Linked DNA regions of Homo sapiens. The protein of the gene in region 6 purifies or fractionates together with the protein of the main gene of each other region. This does not show direct contact. Each region holds a gene or a part of one and is shown on either strand. Other genes may lie near its edges.

What was found.
Region 1: the proteins of PHF2 (region 6) and IWS1 purify together in Homo sapiens (affinity purification with mass spectrometry, with the first as the bait; one large-scale study listed by BioGRID). This does not show direct contact.
Region 2: the proteins of PHF2 (region 6) and KPNA5 purify together in Homo sapiens (affinity purification with mass spectrometry, with the first as the bait; one large-scale study listed by BioGRID). This does not show direct contact.
Region 3: the proteins of PHF2 (region 6) and TTLL12 purify together in Homo sapiens (affinity purification with mass spectrometry, with the first as the bait; one large-scale study listed by BioGRID). This does not show direct contact.
Region 4: the proteins of PHF2 (region 6) and CEP131 purify together in Homo sapiens (affinity purification with mass spectrometry, with the first as the bait; one large-scale study listed by BioGRID). This does not show direct contact.
Region 5: the proteins of PHF2 (region 6) and YTHDC2 purify together in Homo sapiens (affinity purification with mass spectrometry, with the first as the bait; one large-scale study listed by BioGRID). This does not show direct contact.
Region 7: the proteins of PHF2 (region 6) and SUPT6H purify together in Homo sapiens (affinity purification with mass spectrometry, with the first as the bait; one large-scale study listed by BioGRID). This does not show direct contact.

What each region holds. Positions count from the first base shown.
Region 1 is NC_000002.12:127,491,380-127,495,735, reverse strand, and holds part of IWS1 (protein IWS1 homolog), read left to right. Parts: intron 1-781; coding exon 782-864; intron 865-2,325; coding exon 2,326-2,455; intron 2,456-3,647; coding exon 3,648-3,765; intron 3,766-4,356.
Region 2 is NC_000006.12:116,722,279-116,726,634, forward strand, and holds part of KPNA5 (importin subunit alpha-6), read left to right. Parts: coding exon 1-11; coding exon of another isoform or gene 12-15; exon of another isoform or gene 16-1,046; intron 1,047-2,018; coding exon 2,019-2,097; intron 2,098-3,472; coding exon 3,473-3,598; intron 3,599-4,216; coding exon 4,217-4,344; intron 4,345-4,356. UniProt on the Homo sapiens protein: Functions in nuclear protein import as an adapter protein for nuclear receptor KPNB1. Binds specifically and directly to substrates containing either a simple or bipartite NLS motif.
Region 3 is NC_000022.11:43,176,929-43,181,284, reverse strand, and holds part of TTLL12 (tubulin--tyrosine ligase-like protein 12), read left to right. Parts: intron 1-344; coding exon 345-543; intron 544-1,284; coding exon 1,285-1,444; intron 1,445-1,532; coding exon 1,533-1,666; intron 1,667-4,356. UniProt on the Homo sapiens protein: Negatively regulates post-translational modifications of tubulin, including detyrosination of the C-terminus and polyglutamylation of glutamate residues. Also, indirectly promotes histone H4 trimethylation at 'Lys-20' (H4K20me3).
Region 4 is NC_000017.11:81,212,131-81,216,486, reverse strand, and holds part of CEP131 (centrosomal protein of 131 kDa), read left to right. Parts: intron 1-4,356. UniProt on the Homo sapiens protein: Component of centriolar satellites contributing to the building of a complex and dynamic network required to regulate cilia/flagellum formation.
Region 5 is NC_000005.10:113,516,187-113,520,542, reverse strand, and holds part of YTHDC2 (3'-5' RNA helicase YTHDC2), read right to left. Parts: intron 1-4,356. UniProt on the Homo sapiens protein: 3'-5' RNA helicase that plays a key role in the male and female germline by promoting transition from mitotic to meiotic divisions in stem cells.
Region 6 is NC_000009.12:93,677,332-93,680,691, reverse strand, and holds the end of PHF2 (lysine-specific demethylase PHF2), read right to left. Parts: intron 3,105-3,360; coding exon 3,016-3,104; 3' UTR 1,105-3,015; downstream 1-1,104. UniProt on the Homo sapiens protein: Lysine demethylase that demethylates both histones and non-histone proteins. Enzymatically inactive by itself, and becomes active following phosphorylation by PKA: forms a complex with ARID5B and mediates demethylation of methylated ARID5B.
Region 7 is NC_000017.11:28,668,486-28,672,841, reverse strand, and holds part of SUPT6H (transcription elongation factor SPT6), read right to left. Parts: intron 4,310-4,356; exon of another isoform or gene 4,212-4,309; intron 4,194-4,211; exon of another isoform or gene 1,611-4,193; intron 86-1,610; exon of another isoform or gene 1-85.

The DNA.
Region 1 (4,356 bases), on a different chromosome or scaffold from region 6:
CAGATTTGGCTAGTTCACCACAAAGTTTAGTTTCTTCATATATAAAAGGTGTTACAAATTCATGTGTCGTTCTCTTGCTCCTGATCAAGACACGGCTTCTTTCATTGCATTTTAAAAATCTGCTCAACTTATAAAAATTGGCCCAGTAGTATGTTTAAAAAACAAGTTCAGATCTTTTGGAGACACTTGTTGAGAGTTCAGCATGGATTCAATGATCTGTGTCTAGGATTTCTTTCAAAACAATTCAAGAATGGAGGGAAAGTAGCTAAAAGAAGACTAGCTATGTGTATTCAGTTGTTGAAATATATGCAACAGGTATATTATTCTATATTTGTAGAATTTGAAATTTTTCATAATTTAAAAAAATAGAAAAAACTGCCCAAGTAATACTGAAACTCTTCTTTGATATAGTATATTCCAATATCATATAACCTCACACCTGGAAAATTGTTCCTAATATAATAAACCAGAATTTCCCAGTTTTAATTTGTACCTTTAATGAACTCTGAAAATTTGACAGTTATGCTAATGTTCTACATTAAAATTGTTTCTCTCAATTTGTAGTTGTTAAAGGCAATTATTCTAATAGTTTTTTGGGTTTGACTGACATAGACAGATACAGAGCTTGGTGCTCTGCAGAAGATCCATCTTAAATTATTCTTTCTTGTAGGAAAAATTGTTTCTTTGAAAAACTGTTATTTTAAGGTTCAGAATTACAGTGAATTCAATATTAATAAAAAGTACTGTTTTAAAAAAAAATCTTTATTTTTTTTCTGAATAGGAAGACAGACAGTTGAACAATCAAAAAAAGCCAGCACTGAAAAAATTAACTTTACTGCCTGCTGTAGTTATGCACCTTAAGAAGTAAGTATTTTGTTTTCTTTAAAATGTCTTTTTCCTTTTCATGGAATGATAATTCAAATGATGTACTGGTGTTCTAGGAATATTAAATAATGATAGACTTCTATCGGTTCACAGAAAGATAATGAATAAAATTTCCTAAATTATATTTCTTCATAAATTTTTATTAAGCCTTGATGCCTGGTGCAAACAGAACAAATAAAAAATTGATACTAACGAAAGAAAAACTTGGAAACTACTAATTTTGTGTTTTTTTGTTTTGTTTTTGTTTTTTTGGTAAAGACAGGATCTTGCTATGTTGCCCAGGCTTGTCTTGAACTCCTGGGCTTAAGTAATCCTCCCACCTCATCCTCTCAAAGTGCTGGAATTACAGACATGAGCCACTGCACCTGGCCACTAATTTTGTTCTTTATAGACAGTTTTTGGTCTGGTAAAATTGCATCTGTTTTCTCCGTGTGATGGAAAATAGTAAATCTTGGAAGATCCTACCTGAAGGCTGCATTGTACAAGGCTTATATGACTCTAATGTGTCACAATTATTGATCCTTCTGAAGTAATGATGCCCTTTTTGAGTAGATCCTTGTTTCTAACTTTTTTCATTGATTTGCTTTTTTTTTTTTTTTTTTTTTAATTAGAGACAGGATCTCGCTGTGTTGCCCAGGCTGGTCTCGAACTCCTGGGCTCAGCCGATCTTCCCGTCTCAACACCCCAAAGGCAAAGTACTGGAATGGGATTACAGGTGTGAGCCACCACACCGGGCCCTGATTTGCTTATATTTCTGAGCAACCTTGCTTTCTCTTTGAACTAAGCCACAGCCTACTTTTGATGACTGAGGAAATGTATTGGTGCATCAGTGAGCTGCCACCAGCATGGCCTAGAGCATCTGTAACTAGAAAATTTCTCCCTCTATTCTAACAGGGGAAACTATCTGTGGCAGGTTTTATGTATATAATGTTATCTTTTCTATTAACATAACTGATTCCAGTACATAAAATGGAATTTAAGTATTATTTTATTGAGTTTTTTTTTTTTTTTTTTGTCCTGCCAGTGGAGTGCTAGTCTCATTGGTGTCCTGCAGAGAAGAGCAAATCTGGGTTCACCACCATGTAAAACTGTTCAAGAATCACTATTTTGATAGATTGAACGTTTTTTTTTTTTAGTTGAAAAGATTGGAGTTAATTGTTCTTACTGTCTGTACCATTCATATCAGCATTAATTTATCTTGTGTAACTTGAGTTTGTTTTGTTTTCAGCAAATCATCTTTGTCAAGTATATGCATTTCTGGAAAATAAGAACTAAATGTCATACTGCTTTCGAAACCAGAATGGTGTTCAGTAAATGTCAAATTTATATGAGTAACGCTTTAAAAGCAGTTTTTAGAAACATCACTAAATATGTAAGAAAAGTCGGAAGATACAGTAGAACCAAGGTTCACAGAATTTTTAAAAATTATTGTTACTGCAGGCAGGACCTTAAAGAAACATTCATTGACAGTGGTGTGATGTCTGCCATCAAAGAATGGCTCTCACCTCTACCAGATAGGAGTTTGCCTGCACTCAAGATCCGGGAGGAGCTGCTGAAGATCCTGCAAGAGGTTAGAGGCAGATAATCTGACTGTTCTTTATTAATTATCTAATGTGGTCTGTATGGTCATAACCTGTGTAGTTTACAGTGTTTTTATATGTTATCTCTGCTACAGCCTGCCAGAAGAGGGGTTGGAAAAAAGGAACATATCTAATAAAATGAGCGTGAAAGGGAAGACCTTATAAAACTTCATGTAACTATCGCATTGAAGGGAAAAAATCTTAGAGTAGCTGTAATGTGTCTGAGAAGAGTAGTACAGTAGTGGGCAAGTTCCAGGGAGAAATGTGACGCAGAATGAACACCAAATTCAGAATCATATGAACTTGCATTTGAATCTTGAGCTGGGCCACCTTACGTAGTTGTGACACCTTGGGTAAGCTATTTAACTTCTGAAGGAATTCCCAAGGAAACCTCCTATGCCACGCACTGTGCCAGGTGCTTTATATATGTATTGATTCGTTTTTTCCTCACAGTAAACTGAGAAGGTAGGTGTATTATTTCCATTTTACAGATGAGGGAATTAAGATGCAGAGAAGTTAAACGACTCGTCAAGGTCACATAGCTAGAAGGTGGCTGTGCTTGGGTTCAGTCTTAGGTCTATTGGATTCTGAGGCCTGTGCTGGCTCCTGTATTAAACTGCTAACCTCTGAGTACGCTTGGTTCATACTTTCTCACATTGTTAGGTTTTACTTCAACTCAGCTGTAATACTGAGCTCTCAACCTCTTTTTGTTTTTTTTTTTTTTGAGACGGAGTTTTGCTTCTGGTGCCCAGGCTGGAGTGCAGTGGCACCACCTCGGCTCACTTCAACCTCCGCTTCCTAGGTTCAAGCGATTCTCCTGCCTCAGCCTCCCGAGTAGCTGGGATTACAGGCGCCTGCCTCCACACCTGGCTAATTTTTGTATTTTTAGTAGAGATGGGTTTCACCACATGTTGGCCAGGCTGGTCTTGAACTCTTGACCTCAGGTGATCCACCCGCCTCAGCCTCCCAAAGTGCTGGGATTACAGGCGTGAGCCACCATGCCTGGCCTGAACTCTGAACTTTTGATGTGGACACAAAGTATCTTTGTGTTCTATGTCTGTAGATCCTGAAAATGGAATTTTTTATTTGTTCTGTTGTGAATGTGCCAGGTCTCTAGAATAGACTAGCAAGACCCCCAGCTTCCGAGTGATTAATATGTGTGTATGTGTTTATGTTCCCCAGCTGCCTAGTGTGAGCCAGGAGACCCTGAAGCATAGTGGGATTGGACGAGCAGTGATGTATCTCTATAAACACCCCAAGGAGTCAAGGTCTAACAAGGACATGGCAGGGAAATTAATCAGTATGTAAATTTTCCTTTTTGTTTGTTGTGTTTATGTGTATAGATAAGAGAGAGATGCGTATATATAAAAGCTGTATTTTTACCAGTATTTGTTTTAAACGAGTCGGTAAAGTGGAATAGAAATTTTTGAATAACTTCTTACAGGTACTAGCATTTTCTCTTAGACTTTAAAAAAAAACCTCAATATAATTAAGTATGCTATTCAGTATTAAAAATAGCAAGTAAGAGGCTGGGTGTGGTGGCTTAACGCCTGTAATCCCAGCACTTTGGGAGGCTTAGGTGGGCGGATCACAAGGTCAGGAGATCGAGACCATCCTAGCTAACACGATGAAACCCCATCTCTACTAAAAATACAAAAAATTAGCCGGGCATGGTGGTATACACGAGTAGTCCCAGCTACTCGGGAGGCTGAGGCAGGAGAATCACTTGAACCCGGGAGGCGGAGGTTGCAGTGAGCCGAGATCGCGCCACTGCACTCCAGCCTGGGCAACAAGAGCGAGACTCCGTCTCAAAAAAAAAAAAATTGCAAGTAAAAAGTATGCATTTTCTAGTCATGGGTCGAGAGCATGGAGAAAGAGAGGGGTTAGATTG
Region 2 (4,356 bases), on a different chromosome or scaffold from region 6:
GAACTTTTGATGTAACTATAAATAATTTATGCTTAATAATTGTATGATTGAGATTAAAATTAGCAATTCAAGTAATAGCTTTGTAAATATCTCAAGAGTCACTGTCTTCAGGGAAAATTAAAAAGCTACTGACCCAACACTTAACAGAATAGCCATAATCCTAGAAAGTTGACCCTAAAATTTGGAACTTATGTCCTATAGTTGGAACTAATTATTTTGTAAATGAATTTCCTTAGTTTAATGTGATCTCTTTATGAATTAGATAAACTTAATAAGTATTTATGGAATGCCTGTTATCTGCTAAGGTGTTGTGTGAGACATTAATGAAGTATAGAACACAGTTTCTCCTCTCACAGAACAAATAATCTAGTTTATTATTCATTATAATAATTAATTTGAGTAAAAGTCCATGTAGTGAAAATCATTTAGTATTTCACCTCTATTAAAGATAACATGTTTCTCTTTGCTGGGCTGTTATAGCTATTTTCCTTAAAAAGAACAGCTTTTCTATACAAAGAAGTTAAAAACGTTGAAGAAAACTTGTTTTAAAAAGATGTTGTAACTTCATAACTTCATCTACTTACCCTCTTTAAAAAATGTATTATCTTCCTTCCTTTCTTCTTTTGTCGAGAAGCCATTGTAGGCCCAAACAAGGTAGATGGCACAAAGATAGGTCTGATAAGGAGTTGGGGGTCCCAGCATGAGGATAGCATCAGTGGAGGGTGGGCATGCAGGTTCAGCATGGGGGATCAGGGCCCCAACTTGATAATGACACCCACTGGGGTGAGCAGATAAGCAGGCTGGAGCAGGACTTGGAGCCAGCACATCATGGGGTACCAGTCTGGCTGAGGTAAAAGATTGGCTGATATAGGGAGGTTAGGAAAATAGAAGCTATTTCCTGTTATCGGAGAATAGAGATAAAAATATAGAAGAGGAGAAAGCCTGAATAATTTAATTATTTTAGATTAGAACTAGAAATATCAGTGTGAACTCATGGCTCTTAACATAGCTAGGTATGGAAATAAATATATACATGTGTGTAGGTATGTGTGTGTGCATCCTCTTGAAGGGCATGGGAACAGTAACACTTCTACATTAATAAGCTGAGGAAACTGAAGTTCAAATCGAAGTTTCTAAACACTACTCTCCATTGAAAGGAACCAAGATTGTTGGAGAAATGACTGGTTTCAGGACTGGGACTGAGAAAAATGTAAGATGAATGCAGGAAGTAATGAGTGCTCAAGTAATGGACAGATGTCAAAAGAACACAGAAGCCTATTTGAAGGGGTTCTCACTATCCAAACCTGGGACAGTTTGTGCTTTGAAATAAATTGCATTAATGTATATTTTATTGAATAAAATATGAAACCCATAAGTCCACACTAAAGCATGTAGTTAGAATGATAGTATTAGAAATACATCACTGGTAATAATACTAATAATTACCAATACTTCAGATAATAAGCATCAAGAGATGCTAAAATCTAGTGGTAAAGTAGGTTAAGGAGTGGGATTTTGCATTATCTCAAAGTATTTTGTTGCAAAATATTAATTATATTAATTATAAATGGGAAAACAATAATGGTAAAATGGAAAAGTCTGGCAGACATCATCATAATTAGTGACCAGAATTCAGTACCAATATAATGGGAAAAAACAGATTGGGATATAATGAAAAGGTTATAGCACTTACGATATCCCCCAGCCAAAGTATATAACCTGGGTCTTAATCATGAAAAACATTGGATAAACCCAAATAATGGGCTTATGATCTTCAAAAATGGCAAAATCATGAAAATTAAGGGAAGACTGAGAAATCATTCTGGAGAGACATGAAAACTGGCTGTAATGAACGATCCTGGATTAGATCCTTTGTTATAAAGATTATCAGAATAATTAGTAAAACTTCAATGGGATCTTTGGCTGAACACCCCGCAGGAGTTTGTAGTATTTTTGTAACTTCTGTGTAAATTTTAAATTCTTACTAGTATTTAGGTTCATGTTTTTATTATTTTTAGGCACAATGATTATAAAGTTGTATCACCTGCATTAAGGGCAGTTGGTAATATTGTGACTGGTGATGATATTCAAACACAGGTGAGTTCAAACTTGAGTATCATAAATTGTTAACATAAAGGACTTTAAAAAATTTATGTTTCATACAACTTGATTACATATTAATCAAGATTTTAGCATCACCATAATTGTGTGTGTGTCTGTATCTGTGTCTTGGAGGATGGTGAGATGTCAAAGAAGATGTGCTGTCAAGATTGACTCCAGCCAGATTTGGGTTACAATCTTTTTATTTATTTAGTAAGTTAGTTTAGTTAGAGACAGGATATTGCTCTTTCTCCTAGGCTGGGGTGCAGTGGTGTGATCATGGCTCACTGCAGCCTTTACCTCCCTGGCTTAAGCAGTCCTCCTGGCTCAAGCAGTCCTCCCGCCTCAGCCTTCCAAGTAGTTGGGACTGCAGGTGTGCACCACCACACCTGGCTAATTTATTTATTTATTTATTTTTTAGGGACAGGGTCTTGCTATGTTGCCCAAGTTGGTCTCAAATTCCTGAGCTCAAGTGATCCTCCTGCTTTGGCCTCTCAAAGCGTTAGACTTACAGGCATGAGCCAGTATGTCCAGCACAATCTTTCTTGAAGATAGAAACTTAAATTATTTAACACGTTAGATTCTCCTTTGTTTACCGCCTTACAGTGTATTTTTTATTCTAACCTACATATTTTCTTTCAGTTTTATCCTTTTAAAGGCCTATTTGGATACTAATCATAGTTATTAAATAGTTGCTCTTTAGTAATTGACAGTTATTCATTTAATATAGCTCTTGAAATGAAAATGCCATTCTAGACATATACTGTAATTTTCAGTTGGATTTCCAGTGCACTGCTCCACACTTCTTCACCAGATGAATTTAATGTAAATCATTGGAGTATTTTGAATATAGGAACATAATTAATCTTGCAATGGAATAAAGAATGTAAAGGGACAATGCAGAATATACTTGTTTACAGAAGAAGAGTAAGATAGTAAAAATTTTTATGAAGCCAATTGATTCTACATGCTGTTTTTAATGGTTGTAGAATTGGATTTTCTCAGACTGTATGATATATGTATTTTTTTCACCAATTCATTTGGCAAAACTAGAGGTTGGATCCTGACCTCGGTCACCAAATCTTTTTTCAGTTTTATCAGTTGAACTCTGAGAACATTTGTAAATATGAAGGATACACCTCTGATTTTCATTTTATTGGGTTGAGAACAGGGCAGTTCCTTATAGTGGCAGGAGACTAGGTTTATCAATAGCAGACGTGTAGAAGACAGCAAGTTTTACTTTGGGAGGAATTTCTCCTTTCTTAATTTCACTTTCTAGAATGGGTTTTGTACATCTAAATAATTCATTAGTAGATTTTCATATAGGTTATTTACTATAAAACTTTTTGTTTCCATTTCTAACTTGTTTTAGGTAATTTTGAATTGTTCTGCATTACCCTGTCTCTTACATTTATTGAGTAGCCCAAAGGAGTCAATTAGAAAAGAAGCCTGCTGGACTGTTTCTAACATCACTGCTGGAAATAGAGCTCAGATTCAGGTAACTACCCTTCAGATCTGAGAGTAGAACAGCAAGGTCTAAGAAGCCAGTTTGGACAAAAGTTAACACTTTTACTAAAAAAGATTCCTTTTTAAAAAGATACCGAAAAAGTATTTTAAAGAACATGGGCTTTCCTCCTCTAAAATAATAACATTTACTTGTAGTATTCTAGTGAAGAACATCAAGTGTGTGTGTGTGTGTGTGTGTCTAGCACAGTGCCTGACACATAATGGTTTGTCTTTAGAAAGATATTTTTTTGCATTAGTTTTAAATAAGTTATGCAATAATCTTCCTCTCAAAGCTTTTAATGATTTATTAGGGTTCTATCAAGCTTCTTGTGTCAGTGATTACTTATCCATTTTGATCAGTCACATGGCTTGTGCTTTATCATCTCTAAAATTTATATTTTGCTATTCTCCAGTCTTTAAAAAGCTAATTTCCTATGTAAAAAGAAAAATATTTGAAAAGTTTGCTGACAGAATAGAAATTAAAAATTTATTTTAATGTCAAGGTTCCAAAAACCTTGACATTTTGAAGCCATTGAGTTTCAAGATTTTTTTTACTGGTAATATTTTAGAAACAGTATTTGTACTGATTATATATTTTTCCCCCTCTCAGGCTGTTATAGATGCAAATATTTTTCCTGTTTTGATTGAGATTCTTCAGAAAGCAGAGTTTCGTACCAGAAAAGAAGCAGCTTGGGCTATAACTAATGCAACATCAGGAGGTACTCCAGAGCAAATAAGGTATGATATAAA
Region 3 (4,356 bases), on a different chromosome or scaffold from region 6:
GTGTTTATTACAAGTGCTTGGTGGACAGTAGGTGTACCACATATCTGGTCTCATTTGCTGCTTGTGACAGCCAGGTGACAGGCGGTAGAGACCCCTGCTGCCCTGTTTGAGAAGCTTGAAGAGGAGGAGGTGCTTGCTCAGGATCACACAGGGAGTGAGCAGCAGCGCCAGCACCTGACCCAGGCCCACTGGAGTCCAAAACTAGGCATAACTATGGCACCCAGTAGACCAAATCTAAGGAAGCTTGGGCCCTGGTCCCAACACAGCCCTGGGCCTCTTGCTCCCCCGACTTCCCTTTGCCCCATGCCCACCCGGCAGCCTCACATTGTGGCCTGTGCCCGCAGCATCTTCCTCATCGACCACGCCTGGACGTGCCGTGTGGAGCACGCGCGCCAGCAGCTGCAGCAGGTGCCCGGGCTGCTGCACCGCATGGCCAACCTGATGGGCATTGAGTTCCACGGTGAGCTGCCCAGTACAGAGGCTGTGGCCCTGGTGCTGGAGGAGATGTGGAAGTTCAACCAGACCTACCAGCTGGCCCATGGGGTGAGTGGGTAGCTGGGCCCCGGGGAGGGGGAGGACAGGCATGGGCACAGACCTCCGCTGCCCTGTGCCATCAGGCCGGGTGAGGGGCCGGCCAGAGCAAGCAACTCACTTTCTCCTGTGGCTTCCTAAGGAGAGTGCTATCCTGGGGACTCGGACCCAGCTGGCCTCTGAGCTCACAGGACGCAGCCCTCTCAGACTCCTAAACTGAAGGGGCCCAGATGACTCAGCCGCCTCTTTCCTGGCCCCCCTGATTCTGTCACTCTCTTAAAAGCCCTCAACCATTCCTCACCCACCCCTGCTGGCCTCTCCGGGGACTCACCCCATGCTCCAGCCCCTCACCACTCTTAGTTTGGGAAAAGACACCTGCTTGTTTCTCATGATTTTAGCTTAGATGTCATCTCCTCCAGGGACCCTTCCCTGAGCTCAAAGACGACTCCCCCGACCCCCCCATTACCCTCAAACCCATATACACCCCTACGGGTGCTGGGCTGAGTGCCTTGTTACCAAACGCCCTTTTACCACGAGTGTTCACGCTGTGTTACCCAGGCCTGTGTCCTGGTCTGCAAAGGCAGGGCTGCTGTCCCGGAGCCCCTAGCTTAGCTAAAGGGCCTGGGGTACATGTGAGAGGGCCTCCAAGATCAGAGAAATGGCTGTGGGCTGGTGGTCGATGTCTGGGTTCCGGAAGGGAGTTCCGGTGGGTGGATGGGTGAGCGAGAGGTGCCATATGTGCTCTGTCTGCAGACAGCTGAGGAGAAGATGCCGGTGTGGTATATCATGGACGAGTTCGGTTCGCGGATCCAGCACGCGGACGTGCCCAGCTTCGCCACGGCACCCTTCTTCTACATGCCGCAGCAGGTGGCCTACACGCTGCTGTGGCCCCTGAGGGACCTGGACACTGGCGGTAAGTCCAGCACCTGCCCGCCCTGGAGGAGGGGCCTCAGCCCAGTGTCCCGTCACCCCCTCTGATGGGCACTCATGTCTTGGCACAGAGGAGGTGACCCGAGACTTTGCCTACGGAGAGACGGACCCCCTGATCCGGAAGTGCATGCTGCTGCCCTGGGCCCCCACCGACATGCTGGACCTCAGCTCTTGCACACCCGAGCCGCCCGCCGAGCACTACCAGGTGCAGCCCTCCTCCACCCACCAGGCCTGTCTGCTTGGTAGCTTCCAGAATGTTCTCTGTGCACACACCAAATGTTATCAAACCCCAGCCGGGTGCCAGGCCCTGAGCCAGTTACCGTGGGAGGCATAGAGTTTTGGGAGCCTCTGAGAGACGAGGGGCTCAGAGAGTGAACACAAGCTGCCTGTGGCTGCACGGTGGGGGCTCCAGATCCCAGGGTGCCTGGTGCTGGCATCCGTCCTCAGGGGGTCCACGCTGCTCCCTTGGGAAGGAGGGGGCTGTGCAGTTGGTCTTGGCCATGAGCCCCACTCAGCCCCCTGTCCTCATCTCACCGAGGCATGGAAACACCCTGTGTTCACACATCGCGTGCCTCCCTCCCTCTGCAGGCCTGCGAGTTACCATCATGGTCACTGTTATTGATAACAAAGGTGCTTTCAGTCTTGGTCAGGGCCCCGAGGGACCCAGCTGGCCCACTCGGTAGTGCCTGGCTGGAGGTAAGAGCTCATCCAGGCCCCATACAAGGAGGCTGGCGGGTTAGGGAGTCGGAGTTGTCGAGGCCCCAGTGCCGGGGGAGGAAGAGGAGCCTGTGGGAGCGTAGCCACCTCCAGAACCAGTCAGGGCTGGGTAGGAGGTTCCTACCCTGACCCATCTCTCCTCCTTCCCCTCCTCTCCCATCTGCTGCTGCTTCCGTAGGCTGGAACCAGCCTACAAGGGAGCCTGTGCTTAGTACTTTGTGGGCGTGTGCCACTCAGTTCCTTACAATTTTACAGTTCTGTTTTTATCTTCATTTTACTGAGGATGAGGACATTGAGACACAGAGAGGTTAAGTCATTTGCCAGGGGTCACACAGCAGGGGGAAGAGCTGGAGTCCAGCTGAGGCTGCAGGCTTGCCCCCACGGCGACTGAAGTCATCCTTTTTGCACACCAGGCGCTCACTAAGTGCCTCGGAGGGTTTCGGGAAGGGTTAGACGAGTTGACCCATGTGAGAGTGGGCGCGTGGAGGCTGGGCGTGGGGGCTCATGCCTGTAATCCCAGCACTTTGGGAGGCTGAGGCGGGCGGATCACAAGATCAGGAGATCGAGACCATCCTGGCCAACACGGTGAAACCCCGTCTCTACTAAAAATATAAAAAATTAGCTGGGCGTGGTGGCGGGCACCTGTAGTCCCAGCTACTCGGGAGGCTGAGGCAGGAGAATGGTGTGAACCCAGGAGGCGGAGCTTGCAGTGAGCCGAGATCGCGCCACTGCACTCCAGCCTGAGAAACAGAGCGAGACTCCGTCTCAAAAAAAAAAAAAAAATAGAGCGGGCGTGTGTGGAGTGGTGGCGTGTTTGTGTGGGCGCTGCTGATTGCAGGGGTGGGCTGTGGGTGGGGGGGCCTCCTTTCACTTTCGGTCTAAGTCAGTGGTGATTGAACCAACCATGCCAAAAACAAGGGGCTCAGTCTTGTTGGTTCAAAGGGTGCTTACAAGCCTCCCAGAGCCCCTGCACCAGGAAGGTGCTTAGTACACGTTTGTCTGAAAAAGTGAATGCCTTCGTGGATGCAACTGGAGGGACAAACACTTCCTGGTCTCGGGTTTGTTTGTTAATGGAACATGAACTAAAGTTTGTGTTTTTCCTTGGGAAGCTCTGGGCTGACCAGGAAGAGGAGGAGATACAAGGCCACGCATCCTTGTTTTTTCCCATTTGACCCTTTACAATCAGGTCTGTGCTCTGGGCCCAGGGTTGCCTATGTTGATTAGCTATGGCTGGGTAACAAGTAACTCCAAAACTTAGCACCTTAAAACAGTAAACATTTATTATCTCACACGATTTCTGTGGGACAGGAGTTCAGGAGTGGCTCAACGGGGTGCCTCTGGCCTCAAGTCTCCCTTGAGGTACACAGGCCGCCCGTCGGGCTGTGGACCCGCTTCTGCATGGCATATGTGCATGCCTGCTGTGTTGGTGCTGACTGTTGGCAGCAGGCCTGGGCTCCCTGCCTTGTGGGCCTCTCCATAAGAGTGCTCAGGTGTCCTCAGGATGTGGCACCTGATTTCTCCCAGAGCAAGTGATCCGAGGGAGAGAGCAGAGAGGAAGCCTCAGGCTTCATGGCCTTGTTGCAGAAGCAACCCTGTCCCTTCCACCTTTTTCCTGCTCATTAGAAGCAACTCATTAGGCCCATCCCACCCTCAGAGATGGATGCGGCTCTGCCTTTGGAAGATAGTGTCAAAGAGTTTGTAGGCATGTTTTAATCTTTTTTTTTTTTTAATTTTTTAAAAAAGATAGGGTCTTGCTTTTGTCCAGGCTAGAGTACAGTGGCATGATCCTAGCTAACTGCCATTTCCAATTCCTGGGCTCAGGCAATCCTCCTGCCTCAGCCTCCCGAGTAGCTGGGATTCCAGGCAACTGCTACCAAGCCCCGCTAATTATTCAACTTTTCTGTAGAGACGGGGTCTCACTATGTTGCCCAGGCTGGTCCTACACACCTGGGCTCAGGTACTCCTCCACCTCAGCTTCCCAAAGTGCAGGGATTACTGGCTTGAGCCACCATGTGCAGCCACGTGGGCATGTTTTAAATCATCACACTGCAGAAGCTCCCGACAGCCCTCGTGGCTCCTAGGACAAAGCGGCTCCTCTCAGGAGGGGTTTGGCACCTTCTCGCCCCCTGCGATTTTGAGGTAGCACCGAGAAGATGTGCAACAATGTTTACCTTGTTC
Region 4 (4,356 bases), on a different chromosome or scaffold from region 6:
AAACCACAGCTTACTGCAGCCTCCACCTCCCGGACACAAGTGATCCTCTTACCTCAGCATCCTGAGTAGCATGGATTACAGGTGCTCACCACCCTGCCCAGCTAATTTTTAATTTTTTTTTTCTTTTGAGACAGACTTTTGCTCTTTTTGCCCAGGCTGGAGTGCATTTGTGAGATCTCGGCTCACTGCAGCCTCTGCCTCCCGGGTTCAAGGGATTCTCCTGCCTCTGCCTCCCAAGAAGCTGGGATTACAGGCATGCACCACCATGCCCGGCTAATTTTGTATTTTTAGTAGCGACGGGGTTTCGCCATGTTGGTCAGGCTGGTCTTGAACTCTTGACCTCAGGTGATCCTCCTGCCTCAGCCTCCCGAAGTGCTGGGATTACAGGTGTGAGCCACCACACCCAGCCTACTAATTTTTAATTTTTTTGTAGGGACAGGGGTCTCACTAGGTTGCTGGTCCTTAACTCCTGGGCTGAAGCGATCCTCCCACCTCGGCCTCCCAAAGTGCTGGGATTACGGGTGTGGGCCGCTGCACCTGACCCTGCTCCCGCTTTCCTTACATTGTTTTGTAGCAGCTGACAATAGTTCATCAGATGATGCACCAGAACTTCACCCAGTGCTCCTCTGGATTTTCCTTATCATAGTACCAAGAGTGGCACAGCAAATACCCTGTGTCTTTGCCATTTTGCATACATGTAAATACGCCTGTAGAATAAATCCTAAAGGATAACTACTGGGTCAGAGCATAAGTCCATTTAAAATTTTGAAAGGGGGGCCAGGTGCGGTGGCCCGTGCCTGTAATCCCAGCACTTTGGGACGCCGAGGTGGGCAGATTGCTTGAGGTCAGGAGTTCGAGACCAGCCTGGCCAACACGGTGAAACCTCGTCTCTACTAAAAATAGAAAAAATAGCTGGACGTGGTGGCAGGCACCTGTAATGCCAGCTACACAGGAAGCTAAGGCAGGAGAACTGATTTAACCCGGAAGCTGGAGGTTGCAGTGAGCCAAGATCGCACCACCACACTCTAGCCTGGGTGACAGCGAGACTCCATTTCAAAAAAAATTAAATAAATAAAAAAATTTGAAAGGGGGCCGGGAGTGGTGGCCAATATCTGTAATCCCAGCACTTTGCGTGGCTGCGGTGGGAGGATCACTTGAGGCCAGGAGTTTGAGACCAGCCTGGGCAACATAGTGAGACCCCTGTCTCTACAAAAAAATTAAAAAATTAGCCGAGTGTGGTGGTGCATGCCTGTAGTCCCAGCTACATGGGAGGCTGGGGCAGGAGGATGGCTTGAACCCAGAAAGTTTGAGGCTGCAGTGAGCTATGATCATGCCACTGCTCTCCAGCCTGGGCAACAGAGTGAGACTCTATCTTTTAAAATTAAAATTAAAACTAAATTGTAAATTTTTGGCCAGGCGCGGTGGCTCATGCCTGTAATCCCAGCACTTTGGGAGGTTGAGGCAAGCAGATCACGAGGCCAGGAGATTGAGACCATCCTGGCTAACACGGTGAAACCCCATCTCTACTAAAAATACAAAAAAAAAAATTAGCCGGGCGTGGTGGCAGGCACCTGTAGTCGCGGCTACTCGGGAGGCTGAGGCAGGAGAATGGCGTGAACCCAGGAGGCGGAACTTGCAGTGAGCCGAGATCGCGCCACTGCACTCCACCCTGGGCGACAGAGCGAGATTCCGTCTCAAAAAAAATTTTTTTTTTTGATAGGCATTGCCAAGTTGCTGTCCGTAAAGATCATTGCCCTAAGTCACACTCGCATCACAGGGTGCCACGGGGCCTGCTCCCTCGTGCTCTGGTTGGCACACGTGCAGCACAGTTTTGGCCTTTACAGGATCCATATGTAACAAAAGATATCTGACTGTACTACCTTTTAGTTTACTTTTTACTTTTTATTTTATTTTTTTCTTTTTCTTTTTTGAGATGAAGTTTCACTCCTGTCACCTAGGCTGGAGTGCAATGGTGTGATTTCACCTCACCGCAATCTCTGTCTCCTGGGTTCAAGTGATTCTCCTGCCTCAGCCTCCCGAGTAGCTGGGATTACAGGCGCCTGCCACCATGCCGGGCTAAGTTTTGTATTTTTAGTAGAGACAGGATTTCACCATGTTGGCCAGGCTGGTCTCAAACTACTGACCTCAAGTGAATCCGCCCGCCTTGGCCTCCCAAAGTGCTGGGCTTACAGGCGTGAGCCTCCGGCGTGACTGTACGATTTTTAAAAATAAACCTTTTATGTTAGTATAGTTTTAAATTTATAGAAAAATTGGAAAGTGCAGGGTGTTCCCCTGTACCGCACCCAGTCTCTGCTATTTGAATATCTTACATTATGATGGGACGTGTACAATTAACAAGTCATTATTGGTAAATCACTGACTAAAGTCCACACTTGATTTGTATTTTTGCAGTTTTTCTTTTCTGTCCCAGGATCCCACATGATTTTTGGGCTGTGGGTCTCAGGCTTGTTTGGGCTGTGAGTTTCTCAGACTCTCCTTGTTTTTGATGACCTTCGAGTTTTGGGGAGAGCTGGTCAGGGATTTTACAGAATGGCCCCCTGTTGGCCCTTGCCTGATATTTTTCTCGTGATCAGACTGGGTGGTGGATGGGTTCTAGGAGGAAGGCCACAGAGGTAAAGTACTCTTCTCACCCCATCCTGTCTGGGGTCCACACTGTCCATGTGACCTCTCACTGGTGATGCTGCTGGCCTTGGTCCCCTGGCCAAGGTGGAGGGTCAGGCTTCTCCACTGTGAGGTCGCCCATCCCCTGTGCTCTCTGGAAGGAAGTCGCTTTGTTCAGCCCACATGGAAGGGGTGGGGAGTTTTGCTCCCCCTCCTTTAGAGAAGAGCATCTATAGAAGTTATTTGGAATTCTTCTACACAGGAGATTTGTCTGTTCACCCTCATTTATAATTTTTTTTTTTTTTTGAGACAGTGTCTCACGCTGTCGCCCAGGCTGCAGTGCAGTGGCATAATCTTGGCTCACTGCAATCTCCGCCTCCCGGGTTCAAGCGATTTTCCTATCTCAGCCTCCTGAGTAGCTAGAACTACAGGCGTGTGCCACCACACCTGACTAATTTTTGTATTTCAGTAGAGATGGGGTTTCACCATGTTGGCCAGGCTGGTCTCGAACTCCTGACCTCAAGTGATCCTCCTGCCTTGGCTTCCCAAAGTGCTGGGATTACAGGCATGAGCCACTGCACCTGGCCCCACTTATTAATTTTTTCAATCATTTATTATAATGGACTCGTGGATATTTATTTTACACTTCAAGTTATAATTCAATGCTAGTTTGCTTATTTTGTTGCTCTCATTGTCACAGCTTTGGCCACTGGGAACTTTCAGGTGGCTCCTGGGTCCCTGTGTCATTGCCCATCACTTTGTCTTCTGAGCACGTCCTTATTTCTGGCCCTATAAACTGCTCCAGCCTCATCTTGTCTATTTCCTCCTCCAGTCCTAGAATCAGCCATTTCTTCAAGAAGCCCCGGTTCTTTTTCTTGGAGAGTGGTCTCAGAGACCAAGGTCTGGGAGCTGGGTGTGCTTGTCCCTACTGGGCTGTTTCTGGTCTTCTCAGCCAACAGAGCAAGGAAGTATGTAGTGTACGCCAGTTGGTGTGTAATATACACACTGTCTATAGATAGTAACCTACCTAGTAACCATTGGTGTTGTGCGTCCTACTGATGTCTCTGCCGCTAGTGGCACCTCTCGCCCCCCCGACGCTTGCTGATTGTAACCTCCCCTCCTGCAGTGAGGATGCGGCCCCATCGTCTGCTGTCCCTGGTTTAGCTCCTGTGTGTGTGTAAGGTGTGTAAGGTGGTGTCACAGTGGATAACCCAAACCCCATGGGAAGAACACCACCAATGCTGTGCTATGCTCTGGGACAGCCCCTCTGCACGGGCCCCACTCCTGCCCACGGCTCCTCGGGACAGCCCCTCTGCACAGGCCCCACTCCTGCCCAGGGCTATTAGGAAGAGCCCCTCTGCCTTTAGGCTGACAGGCCCCACTCCTGCCCGGGGCTACTCGGAACAGTCCCTCTGCACGGGCCCCACTCCTGTCCAGGGCTGCTTGGACAGCACCTCGCCCTCCACCTCTGATTTTATTTCTAACTTAACATCTGTGAGTGAGGCTGAACATCTTTTCTTTTCTTTTCTTTTTTTTTTTTTTTGAGAGGGAATCTTGCTCTGTCGCCCAGGCTGGAGTGCAGTAGCGCAATCTCGGCTCACTGCAACCTCCGCCTCCCAGTTCAAGTGATTCTCCTGCCTCAGCCTCCTGAGTAGCTGGGATTACAGGTGCGTGCCACCATGCCCGGCTAATTTATATATATATATCTTTTTAGTAGAGACAAGGTTTCACCAT
Region 5 (4,356 bases), on a different chromosome or scaffold from region 6:
ATGAGAATGCTGACTCCTTCTCATTTAAAGAAAAAAAAAAAAAAGAGATTCTTTTATTTTCAATAATCCTTTATTCTTGGGAAAACCCAGTTTAAATGTGACCTAATTTTTTATTTTATTTAGCATATTACATCTATGATCATAAGTAAGATAAACCCATAATTTTCATTTCTAATATCTTCTTTATCTGAGTTAGGTAGCGAAGTTATACTAGTTTCATAAAAAACAGGAGGTGTCCCTCTCTTTGATTCTCCAGGAAAAACTGAAGTAAAAATAAAATTATGTTTATTGTGCAGCCATAAAAAAAGAGTAAGTTCATGTCCTTTGCGGGGACATCGATGAAGCTGGAAACCATCATCCTCAGCAAACTAACACAGGAACAGAAAACCAAACACTACATGTTCTCACTCATAACTGGCAGTTGAAAAATGAGAACACATGGACATAGCGGGGGAACATCACACACAGGGGCCTGTCAGGGATTAGGGGGAAAGGAAAGGAAGAGCATTAGGACTAATATCTAATGCATGCAGGGCTTAAAACCTAGCTGATGAGTTGATAGGTGCAGCAAACCACCAGGGCACATGTATACCTATGTAACAAACCTGCACATTCAGCACATGTATCCCAGAACTTAAAGTAAAATAAAATTAAAAAGAAAAGAAATTATGTGTATTGACTCTTTGATTTAAATTACCTCTGAATGGCATTTGTGTGAGTAAATTTCTAATCTTGATTAAATTTATATAATGAATTTTTTAAAAAACCATTGTTAGGATTAAATGATAATCCATTTAAAGCACCTAGCACAAGTATACAACAACACTTAGTAAATGTTTGCTCCTGCCTCCTCAAGGAATGCAGCCCTGCCGATATCTTGATTTTAAGTCCATGGGACCTCTGTTGTTGGACTTCTGACCTCCAGAACTGTACTTTGGTACTCTATTTGGTACCTGTTAGGCAGTGACCTTAGCAGTCACAGAAGAAACTTGTACTTGGAAAATCTACTTTCATATACTTCATATTTTCCCATTCTACAGATTTTTAACAAAGTTCATTTTGTAAAATCCATTTTTGTCTAACTTGGACTGAGAAAAATCGAGATGGGATTTTGTTTTCATTATAAACAAGCCAAAGACTTAGAAAAGTGAGCCTTTAGGACTAAAACACACTGACCTCAGCGTGACTTTAAACACAACCTTTAAAGTTGAGGAAAAAAAGTAAATAATGATGTGAAATTTTTGGTATGTGAAACCTGACTAGAATTTCAAAGAAAACTTTAGGATATATTAAAAATCACAAAATGGGGCTTTTACTCCAAGAATGTTTTCACTAAAAGATGAGCAATTACAAAAAATAATCAAAACAGCGCCAAGGCACACTAGTTCAGGCCTATAATCCCAATACTTTGGGCGGCCTAGGCAGGAGGATCACTTGAGCCCAGGAGTTTGAGACCAGGCTGGGCAACATAGCAAGACCCCATCTCTAAAAAAAAAAAAATCTTAAATTAGCCAGGCATGGTGGTGCATGCCTGTGGTCCTATCTACTTGCGAGGAAAGCCTGAGCCTAGGCGTTTGAGGCCATACTGAGCTATGATTGTGCCACTGTACTCCAGCCTGGACAACAGAGGAAGACTCTGTCTCTAAAAAATAAAAATAATCAAAGCAGGTAAAATTCAATTATTTAGAAGATGAAAAACAAAATCCATCACAAATGACATAATTTTGAAAGAAAGAGTATCAAAAAGAAAAAATTGACCAGAAAAAAATTGAAAGCTATCACACAATAAGTCTGGAATCTATTTTTTAAAACTTATATAAAAAGCCCAAATAAGAGAATGAGTCAATGAGAGACTGGAAATAGAATCCAGGCTTTCTGCACTTTACACCAGGTGGCCTCTCAAATAGGTACTAAGAAACTATAATATCAGACACCTACAGATACACACACACACACACACACACACACACACACACACACACACACGAAAACTAACTTACTGAATCAATAAAGTTAACGATAGATTATTTTTTTAAAAATCGGCTGGGCCCAGTGGCTCATGTCTGTAATCTTAGTACTTTGGGAGGCCAATGAGGGAGGATTGCTTGAGCCCAGTAGTTCAAGACCATCCTGAGCAACATAATGAGATGCTGTCCTCTACAAAAAATAGAAAAATTAGTTGGGTGTGGTAGCATATGCCTGTAGTACCAGCTACTCAAGAGGCTGAGGTGAGAGGATTGATTGGGCCTGGGAGATGGAGGCTGCAGTGAGCAGCGAGCCGTCATCATTCCACTGCACTAAAGCCTGGGTGACAGAGCAAGACCTTGTCTCCAAAAAAAAAAAAAAACAAAAAAACGCCAGGTGCAGTGGCTCACGCCTGTAATCCCAGCACTTTGGGAGGCCAAGGCGGGCAGATCACGAGGTCAGGAGATCTAGACAATCCTGGCTAACACAGTGAAACCCCATCTCTACTGAAAATACAAAAAATTAGCCGGGCGTGGTGGTGGGCGCCTGTAGTCCTAGCTACTTGGGAGGCTGAGGCAGGAGAATGGCGTGAACCCGGGAGGTGGAGCTTGCAGTGAGCCGAGATTGTACCACTGCACTCCAGCCTGGGTGACAGAGCAAGACTCCATCTCAAAAAAATAAAATAAAATAAAATAAAGTCAAAGGGTGAACAGAAAATTTCATGGATAAGTCAGGTACAAATTCTCATACAAATGAAAAGAAAGGATTTGAGAAGTAGATTCAAAGTGATTTCTTTCTTTTTGTGAAAAGAAGAAAAGGCATTTGAAAATCACAAGGACCACTAAGAAAATATAGTACAAAGTTTACTCAAAGATGAAAAAAAGAGAGAAGGAGCTAGGGTATTTCGTAAGAAGGTTTGAAAGCATTAAGGTTATAGGTATTAGGGACTGGATAAATAGGCAGGATTGCCTTGCTTCCCTTAGCATCTCTTTCCTTTTTCTTCTTTCTCTGGCTCTTCAATGTTTCCGCATTCCCCATTTTTGTCTCCATAACTTCCTTCTTGAATTCTCCTTCCCAAGATATCTATTCATTCCAGATCAGCTCTTACATGACTATGCTACTGAAGAGAAGGACAGGAAGTCTACTCTAATGGACTGCTTTTCTAAGTTAGCTGTTTAGAATGCAAGACCCATGTAACCATAGAAATGATGTAGCTACAGAACTGTACATTTATAACATGTGTTTCCAAGCACAGGCCCAAAACCTCTTACCTGCAACTAGTAAACCCAAACAGTGCCAAAAACTGGAAACTTTTAAGTTTGCAGTAACCTCATTTGACATCAAATGTGATCACGTGATTAAACTGACATGAGGTTATTAATAGTCTCAGTGTGAATATTCATAGAATTTCCAGCAAAAATATAAATGTGACTAAAGGTGATGGCCATATTTTATTAGGTAGATTATACAACATATTGCAAATATACCCAAATACCTTTCTAAAGTCTAAAAAATCTGAATCTCAAATATATTTAGCCCAAGTGTTTCTGGATAAAGTATTGTGGCACTGAACTATATTTTTATTTTCAGGTGCAGTATTTTTACCTACCTAGTGGACTATAAGATGGGCACATTCAGGAATCTAACCACTGTTCCAGCACTGGCCTTAGTGATGTTCAAAACGCACATTCACCTAAACTAAATCCCGTGTCTCAGTAATTTATCACTGTAGTAGGCAGTCATATGCAAGACATTCCTACATCAGCTGCTTTCACTTTGGGACCATCTGAATATTTATTAATATATTTACTTAATAAAGTTTTGTTTTCCCTCTTCCTAACCTAAAAACATACCGGTAAGCTGAAATTTTATCCTTTTCTTCCCTCTATGTCAGTAGTTCTCAACCTGAGCAATTTTGCTCTCCAGAGGACATTTGGCAACCTCTAGAAGCATCTCTGGTTGTCACAACTGGGGTTAGGAGTGTTAGTGGCATGTAGTAGTAATGGCTATGGATGCTGTTAAACACCCTACAGTACACAAAACAGAATAAAGAATTATCCAGTCCAAAATGTCAATAGCACCAACAGTGAGAAAGCTTCCTTTACATTGATCCCACCATCCTTATTAACAAAATGAAATAGCGCCACAGAATTTTAGAGTTTTTCAATTTGGATGGCTCAAATGACTTTTCCCTCAATGTAACTCTGTGATCCTCCCAACAAAACAAAACAATTTCCTCCTGTACCACTTTTTAAAATCATTTCTAATCATCAGATCCTTGACTTGGTAGGAAAGAAAACAATGAACATATGCTCTAAAGCTTATTATTATATTGCAGTAACAGTAAAAGAAGTAAGTTCCATAAATAATTGCAACTATCTTTTGTACATC
Region 6 (3,360 bases):
CCTATCCTGGGGAGCCCCCAGGTCCTGGAGGGGTTCCTCCTGGGGGCTCGACCACCATGCGTGGTGGGAGCATCCCCCGGAGCACCCAGCAGGGACTGGAGGAAACAAAGCTCAGAGCGAGAAAGGACTTGCCCAAGGGCAGCCTTGGGTTAGTTTCCTGTGCCACATGACAAACTGCATGGAGTGAATGACCACAGGTCTGCGGGTTGACAAAACCCCTAGAATCTTGCAGTGGTGGGTCAGACACCCAGCACGGCAGAGCCCTCTGCTCAGGGTCTACTGGAGATCCTGCTTCCTCAGGGTGTTGGCAGCCAGGGCCGACCCTGCTCAGCAACCTGCAAGCTGAGCAACCTTGGGTGACCCAGGCCAAACTTGTCTCCAGCTTATCCCACTCCCAGCTCCCATCCCAGGGCAAGACCCCATGTGTGGGGGCCTGGGCCAGTCCAGCCGTCATCACACCCCTTGATTCTCAGCATCTGCCTGCCCAAATGGCCCGAGGTTATTCATGTTTCTTCAATAAACGCCAAATGGCCTGTTTATCCGTGGTCCTCAACATTGTCACCAGCACCCCCACGCATGCACCCCCACCAACAGACTGACCCAGGCCTCACCTGTGTCCCAGCAGCCCTGCCTGCCACACATCACGAGCAGCGACCCCACCCCTGCGCTCAGCACCCTCCCTGGGCTTGCACCATTTGAGTGCCTCTGTCAGGTAAGGGCTGTTCCTGGTAGTTAGCTGTAATCACATCAGACTTAGGCTAGAACCGTGCAAGGGACTGAATGCTTCTGGGTGTGCATCCGTGCTGGGGTGCACATGTGTGTGCCTACTGGACTCAGCCAAACGCCATACCCTTGAGTCCAAAAGAAGGTTCTAGAGGCTTCCCAAGGACATCCTCAGGGCTGGGACTGACAAACGCTGCTGCCACCCCTGCAGCCCCCGAGGGTCTCTTCTGTCCACTCCTGCCAGCCAGCTTGGGGTGCTGTGTGTGATTTGGCTGAGCAACCCGAAGCTTTCCATGAGGAACGCAGGTGGCTGGAGCCTCCCCACCACCCTCACTGCCAGGGTGAACAACTACAGTCGAGGCAGAAATGACACAGACATGGTTCTGTACAAAACCTGAAATATTTTTACTTTTTTAAAACTTTGATCTAAGTTGCCTTAGACCTCATGGACTCGATACAAGAGTAATATGAATTGGGAAATAAAACACTTTAATAGCCACGATAAACTTTGTTAGAAATGTACATGTTGCCAAAATAATAATAATAAAATTAAAAAAAAGAGAGAGAGAGAACAGCTTGATGTCCAGGTTAGATTATATAAATGTTCAACAAGGGCAGGGTAAAGGAAACTTTAAAAACACCAGTTCTGAATAAGCCTGGGGCCCCGTGAGACTCCCCCTCTCCCACCCAGTCTCGGGCCCTAGGGACTGCGTCCCTCCAAACAGGACAAGTGGGAGTGGATAAGGCCTCCACCAAGCTGCCTCTCCCAGTGGACAAAAACATCCAGGTAATGGGTATATAAACAAAGCTCATAAGAAATGTACAAATATAAAAAGCTACAAACATTAATAAATTACAGCATCACAAAACACGGAAACACTTCACAAGGTGCTAGTAAAATAACTGTATCCCCCAATCCCCTCATCATACAAGGAAAACAAAGAGCTGGTATTAAAGTTGAAGATTCATCTTCAAAATGTGTCTGAAATAGATCTTTTGTGTACTATTTGCTTCTGTAAAGACAGAGTGTAAGGCTGCACAGACATCACTTGTTTTTCAGGCAATACCTTAGTTCTTAAAAGAAAAAAATAATAATAATAAAAGGAAAGGAGAAGGAAAAAGCATCAGAACCCAACTGTCCATCTGACTCAGCAAAAAACTCGTATAAATGTTAATGAAGAACTCTATAGAAAGAAATTCCTAAAGATACTTTTACTCTTATAAAAAAGAAGTTATTTAAAAAGCTATTTACACGCTACATTCTATGAAAAATATGCTTCAGGAAATACATCTAAAATTAAAATACAGGATTGCCTGAGAAACAAATCCAGCCCCTCCGTGTCGATGGTGGACACACCATCCAGGTACGACCCATGCAGGCGACACCACACGCTGACACGGGAGAACAGAGAAGTGCCGACCGTAAGTCCTCGGGCCGCCTGGCCACTGTCCCTGCCCCTGCCCCTGCCCTGCCAGTCCCAGGGCAGGGGTGCCTTGGCTGAGAAGTGCTTCTCCAGAGTGTGGCCAGCAGGGCAAGACGGTCCCTGCCACATGGCTTAGCCTGGGCCTCCCAGACCCCAAGATGTGGCTGAGCCCTTGCCCTTTCCTGGGGACCCCACAATGGCTCCCCTGCCCGCTAACACACCAACCCAGCTGCCAGTCTTAGCTGCCCCCCAGAAATGCTCCTGGGCATTCAGGCTGAACACCCACCATCCTGCTGCCACCTGCCAACCAGAAAGCTCGGGGCAGACCCTTCCTCACCCGCCGAGCACTGTCTGGACTTGGCTGAGAATCACTCAGGAAGAGAAGGGGGGACATAAACATCCCACTTGCTCCTCCTCTTTCTGTGTTCTTTGCCTTTTTTTTTAAGCCCCTGGAGGCTGCCAGCCTGTGGCCAGCTCTGACTCTGGGGCTGGTGAGCATTGGCTCACTCTGTCTTCCTTGAAGGACTCATGCTCTCAGCAGAGCTGCAGAGGCCCTGCAATCACACCCACGCTCAGGGGGCCTGAAGGCTGTCCTTAAAGTGGAATAAGCGGTCCTCAAACTTGCAGGGCCGCTTTTCTGGGACAGATCACTCTTAGCAACTTGAGAAAAGACGTCCATTTTCAAATTGAGGGGCCACGCTGGGCTCGCTCTGCCGGCTGAAGGGACAGACGCTTGTTGGGGAGATGGCAGCCGGGAAGAGGCAAGGCCCTCCCTGGTGAGGCAGCTCGGCACCCTCCTGGGAGGCAGATGTTTTCGCGGGGCTCCGGGGGTCCTGAGCGGAGCAGAAGGATCCTGGCTTTCCAAATCTTAAAGGAGTAGTTTCCCGTTCCGATGAATTTTCAAAATTTTCCCAAGCCTCTGCTTGGCGGTCGCCATGCCCTTTTTCGTACGTTTTCCTAGGGGAGTCGGGGAGGGGACACAAAAAGGGAAGGTAAGCTAGATGGCAAGGGGCGTGGCATGCCGGTGGGGGGGAGGGTCCCGCTGACACTAAGGGGCAGCCTGCAGTCCCCCATCTGTAAAATGGGCCTATGAAGCCCCAGCTCCGAGCTCAGCACCCTTCAGGAGTCTGGGATCACTGGCAAAGCCTCCGCCTCAGAGGCCGTGTCCTCAAGGGGCCCTGGCAGGTAGGATGGACATGGGCTTGGGGATGGC
Region 7 (4,356 bases), on a different chromosome or scaffold from region 6:
AAGCCAGGCTACTCAGGAGGCTGAGGCAGGAGAATCTCTTGAATCCGGAAGGTGGAGGTTGCAGATTGCGCCACTGCATTCCAGCCTGGCGAGAGAGTGAGACTCTGTCTTAAAAAAAAAAGCCATTAGGCCAGGCGTGGTAGCTCACTCCTATAACCCCAGCACTTAGGGAGGCCAAGGCAGGTGGATCACCTGAGGTCAGGAGTTCGAGACCAGCTTGGCCAACATGGTGAAACCCCGTCTCTACTAAAAATACAAAAATTATCCGGGTATGGTGGCAGGTGCCTGTAATCCCAGTTACTCTGGAGGCTTAGGCAGGAGAATGGTTTGACCCCGGGAGGTGGAGGTTGCAGTGAGCTGAGATTGCACCACTGCACTCCAGCCTGGGCAACAAGAGCAAAATCTGCCTCGAAAAAAAAGAAAAAAAAAGAAAAGAAAAAAAGAAAAAGAAGGCAATTATACCAGACTTGTATATGTATCATCTCTCTTCCCCAAAGTTTTACCTCACTTACCATTTGAAGACAGGAATGGGCAAATGAGGAAAGAAACTAATGTAGGGACAATTAAGTGGGGATATGGTGGTAGAGTGAGATTATGTGATCTGCTTCTAGGAGGCTTGGAAACAATAAGTGCCAACTTTATAAAAGGTGCTTTCATATGTTTACATACACTATTCATACTTATTAGCAAAGTCAAAAGCAAAATCTCTTTTCAATAGATTAAACACACAAATACTTCATGAACTTGAGCCAATTTGTGTGAGTACTGGTTGGGAGCATTTGGGTCCAAAAAGGGCCTAGTTTTATCATTTACTCCCCTTGCAGGCAAAAAATCTTGAAAGGCTTCCATGTCCTACAAAATAAATGCAACATGGTTAAATGGAAAGACTGCTGGGCTCAAGAGTAGAAATCAAATCCTGGTTTCATACCCTACGGGCTAAACATAAACTTAAGCAAATTATTGGACATGCCTGAATATCACTTTCTTAACCTGGAAAATGGTAATAGCGCTACCTACCTTACAGGATAGTTGAGAATATTACATGACATAGGGGAAAGAACCTATTGTTTCAAGATGGGTTAACCTGAGTTTGAATTTGAATCCTGAGCCTAATTTTCCTTAGCATTCTGTAATTCTGTACCAACCAACCCCAACTTTATCTTCTACTTCCCTGCTTTCAGACTCATCCAAAGCCTGGAAACGACAGTAGGGATCTTCAAGAACCGTAACATGGAGCTTGATGGGCCTTGAGTAGGACTTAAAAAACAGCACACATCATCACAACAAGATTCCATTGTGGAACCCTAAAGCTGGCTGCTGACACACTCAGCATCACTCCTCACCCCATCCAGTAAAATGGTCTATGGGATATATCCCATGTACCTTTCTCTCACTTAGACTACAAGCTTCTGGAAGATAAAGAACATATCCAATAGAGAGACTAATAAAAATCATGAAAACATAAATGGCAATACAAGAGGCATTACAAGGCACTCTGTGATTCTGCACCAGAAAAGCTATATCCCTTCAGGTGTGCTGCAACACATTAGCAACAAATTAGCTGCTAACAAATTAGCAACTGTTAAGTGTCTGTTAAATAAACTACTTACGTTTTCATATTGCTGCCATCTTCCCAGTTAAAGATGGCAGTGGGAGGGGAGAGAAGAGAAGGGTGGCTAATGGCTACCTGAAGGTGCCTTAAGTTCTGTGGCTCTAATTCTCCTCAAAATTGCCCTTACGGAGCTCAATCAATACTATAACCAATGAACTTGAGATTAACTAAACTCAAGAAAACAAAACTGAAGGTATAGGAGGGAGGGGGAATGTTCAATTTTCGGTTGAGGTTTCAGATGCCATTCTTTCCACAAACCTAACTGAATGCCTACAATGTACATATACTCTGCTAAGAGCTGGGGATTTGAAGAGAATTGTTCATTTTCTTTCTTTTTTTTTTTTGAGATGGAGTTTCGCTCTTGTTGCCCAGGCTGGAGTGCAATGGCGTGATCTCGGCTCACCGCAACCTCCACCTCCTGGGTTCAAGCGATTCTCCTGCCTCAGCCTCCCGAGTAGCTGGGATTACAGGCATGCACCACCATGCTGGCTAATTTTGCATTTTTAGTAGAGAGGGGGTTTCTCCATGTTGGTCAGGCTGGTCTTGAACTCCTGACCTCAGGTGATCTGCCCGCCTCGGCCTCCCAAAGTGCTGGGATTTACAGGCGTGAGCCACCGCGCCTGGCCGGATTGTTCATTTTCAAGGAGTTGAATGTCTCCTAGAGATAGAAATATGAAAATAAGGACCATAAAATCGTTTTATATATTACAATAGACACACAGAACAGGCACAGGAAGAGAACTGGACAATAAACTCACAACACACACACAAAACCCAATCAAAATAATATGGGTCTCTCTTGGGTATTTTAAGCAATTTTTTAAAAAGTACCCTGAGGAATAATGCTTATTACACACCTACCAAGTGCCAGACACTAACAAATACCCTACTATTTTATGTCCCTATCAAGGAGAACAAGTATTCTATTAATCCCTACACTGTCCTATGAGTTACAGCACACTTCTCTCTCAACAGAGGAGGAAACAGACTCAGAGAGATGTAGTCATTTGTTCAAGGTGACAAAACTATCATCTGTAAGTGCTGAGGTCTGTCTGACTCTTCATGGTTGACAGTACCACATCTATCAATAGTTTTCAGGGCGTGGTCCAGGGGCCAGTCCCTCTGTTCTCTCAGGAGCATAGAGTGGAGTTTTCCAGAGGTTATAGGACATGTGGTTATCACAACAGACTGAATGCAAAAACATATGAGAACACAGCTGTATTCTGTTAGAGCAGACATTAAAACATTGTACTAAAAAACAAAGAATGTCATTCTTACTTAATTTACTTATTTTGAGACAGAGTCTTACTCTCTCACCCAGGATGAAGTGCAATGGCACGATCCTGGCTCGCTGCAACCTCCGCCTCCTGGGTTCAAGCGATTCTCTTGCCTCAGCCTCCCGAGTAGGTGGGACTACAGGCGCTCGCCACCACGTCTAGCTAATTTTTGTTTTTTTTAGTAGAGATGGGGTTTGGCCATATTGGCCAGGCTGGTCTCGAACTCCTGACCTCAAGTGATCCACCTGCCTTGGCCTCCCAAAGTGCTGGGACTACAGGCGTGAGCCACCACGCCCGGCTATTCATTTATTTTTTAAGACAAAGTTTCACCATGTTAGCCAGGCTGGTTTCGAACTCCTGAGCTCAAGTGATCCACCTGCCTCGACCTTCCAAAGTTCTGGGATTACAGGAGTGAGCCACCACACCCAGTCCATTCTTACTAAAATGTTTTGTTTTAAAAACTATTATTATTCGGCCGAGTGCTGTGGCTCATGCCTGTAACCCCAGGCCGAGGCAGGCCGATCACCTGAGGTCAGCAGTTTGAGACCAGCCTGGCCAACATGGTGAAACTCTGCCTCCACTAAAAATGAAAAATTAGCTGGGTATGGTGGCAGGCGCCTGTAGTCCCAGCTATTCAGGAGGCTGAAGCAGGAGAATTGCTTGAACCTGGAAGGCAGAGGTTGCAGTGAGCCAAGATGGTGCTACTGCACCGACAGTGAGACTCCGTCTCAAAACAAACAAACAAACAAAAAAACCCAAAAAACTACTGTTATTCATAAAAAGTATTATTGTTTACTACTTTAAAATAAATCAATAAATATTTTTAAATGTCTCACTGAGTTTTAATTTCGAATCTGGTAAATATCAAAGGATATAACTCACATAAACAAAATGTCTTTGAAGTCCTAAATAAGTTTTAAGAGTATAAAGGGGTCCTGAGTCCAAAAAGTTGAGGAGTGACTGTAAAGACCCTAAAGAGATGCGGTATAGTAAGCCTAGGGGTTAGGGTGATGCTCCCCCATGACCCCAAGATCTCTATCCTTAAGGTCATTTAGCTTGAGCACTGCCAAAAGTGAAAGTCTTAAACTTCTGCCAATTAAATCTAGAGCTCTAATTTTAATTTTGACATTGCTCCCCCTCAGCCCTGAACTGAGCCATTAAAAACAGATTTGAGTACGGCAGCCCCCACACATAGCTTGTTCTAATTAGGCTATCAGACCCACAAGTTCAATCTTTTAAGGCCTCAACATCTTCAAATTAAATGCCAGCTCCTGCAGACCAGATGCCCCTCAGCCTACTTAACAGAGAAACACACAGCCTACCTGATGAAAACAACAGCTTTCTTCTGTCTCAAGGGCAGCTGGTGCTCCATGCTGCACACAGCTTGGAAAGATAGCTGTGTTCTCTTTCTTCCCATCGCCTAGGTTAGCAATAAAGCACACACTATGCTATAGCTGGGGAATGCCT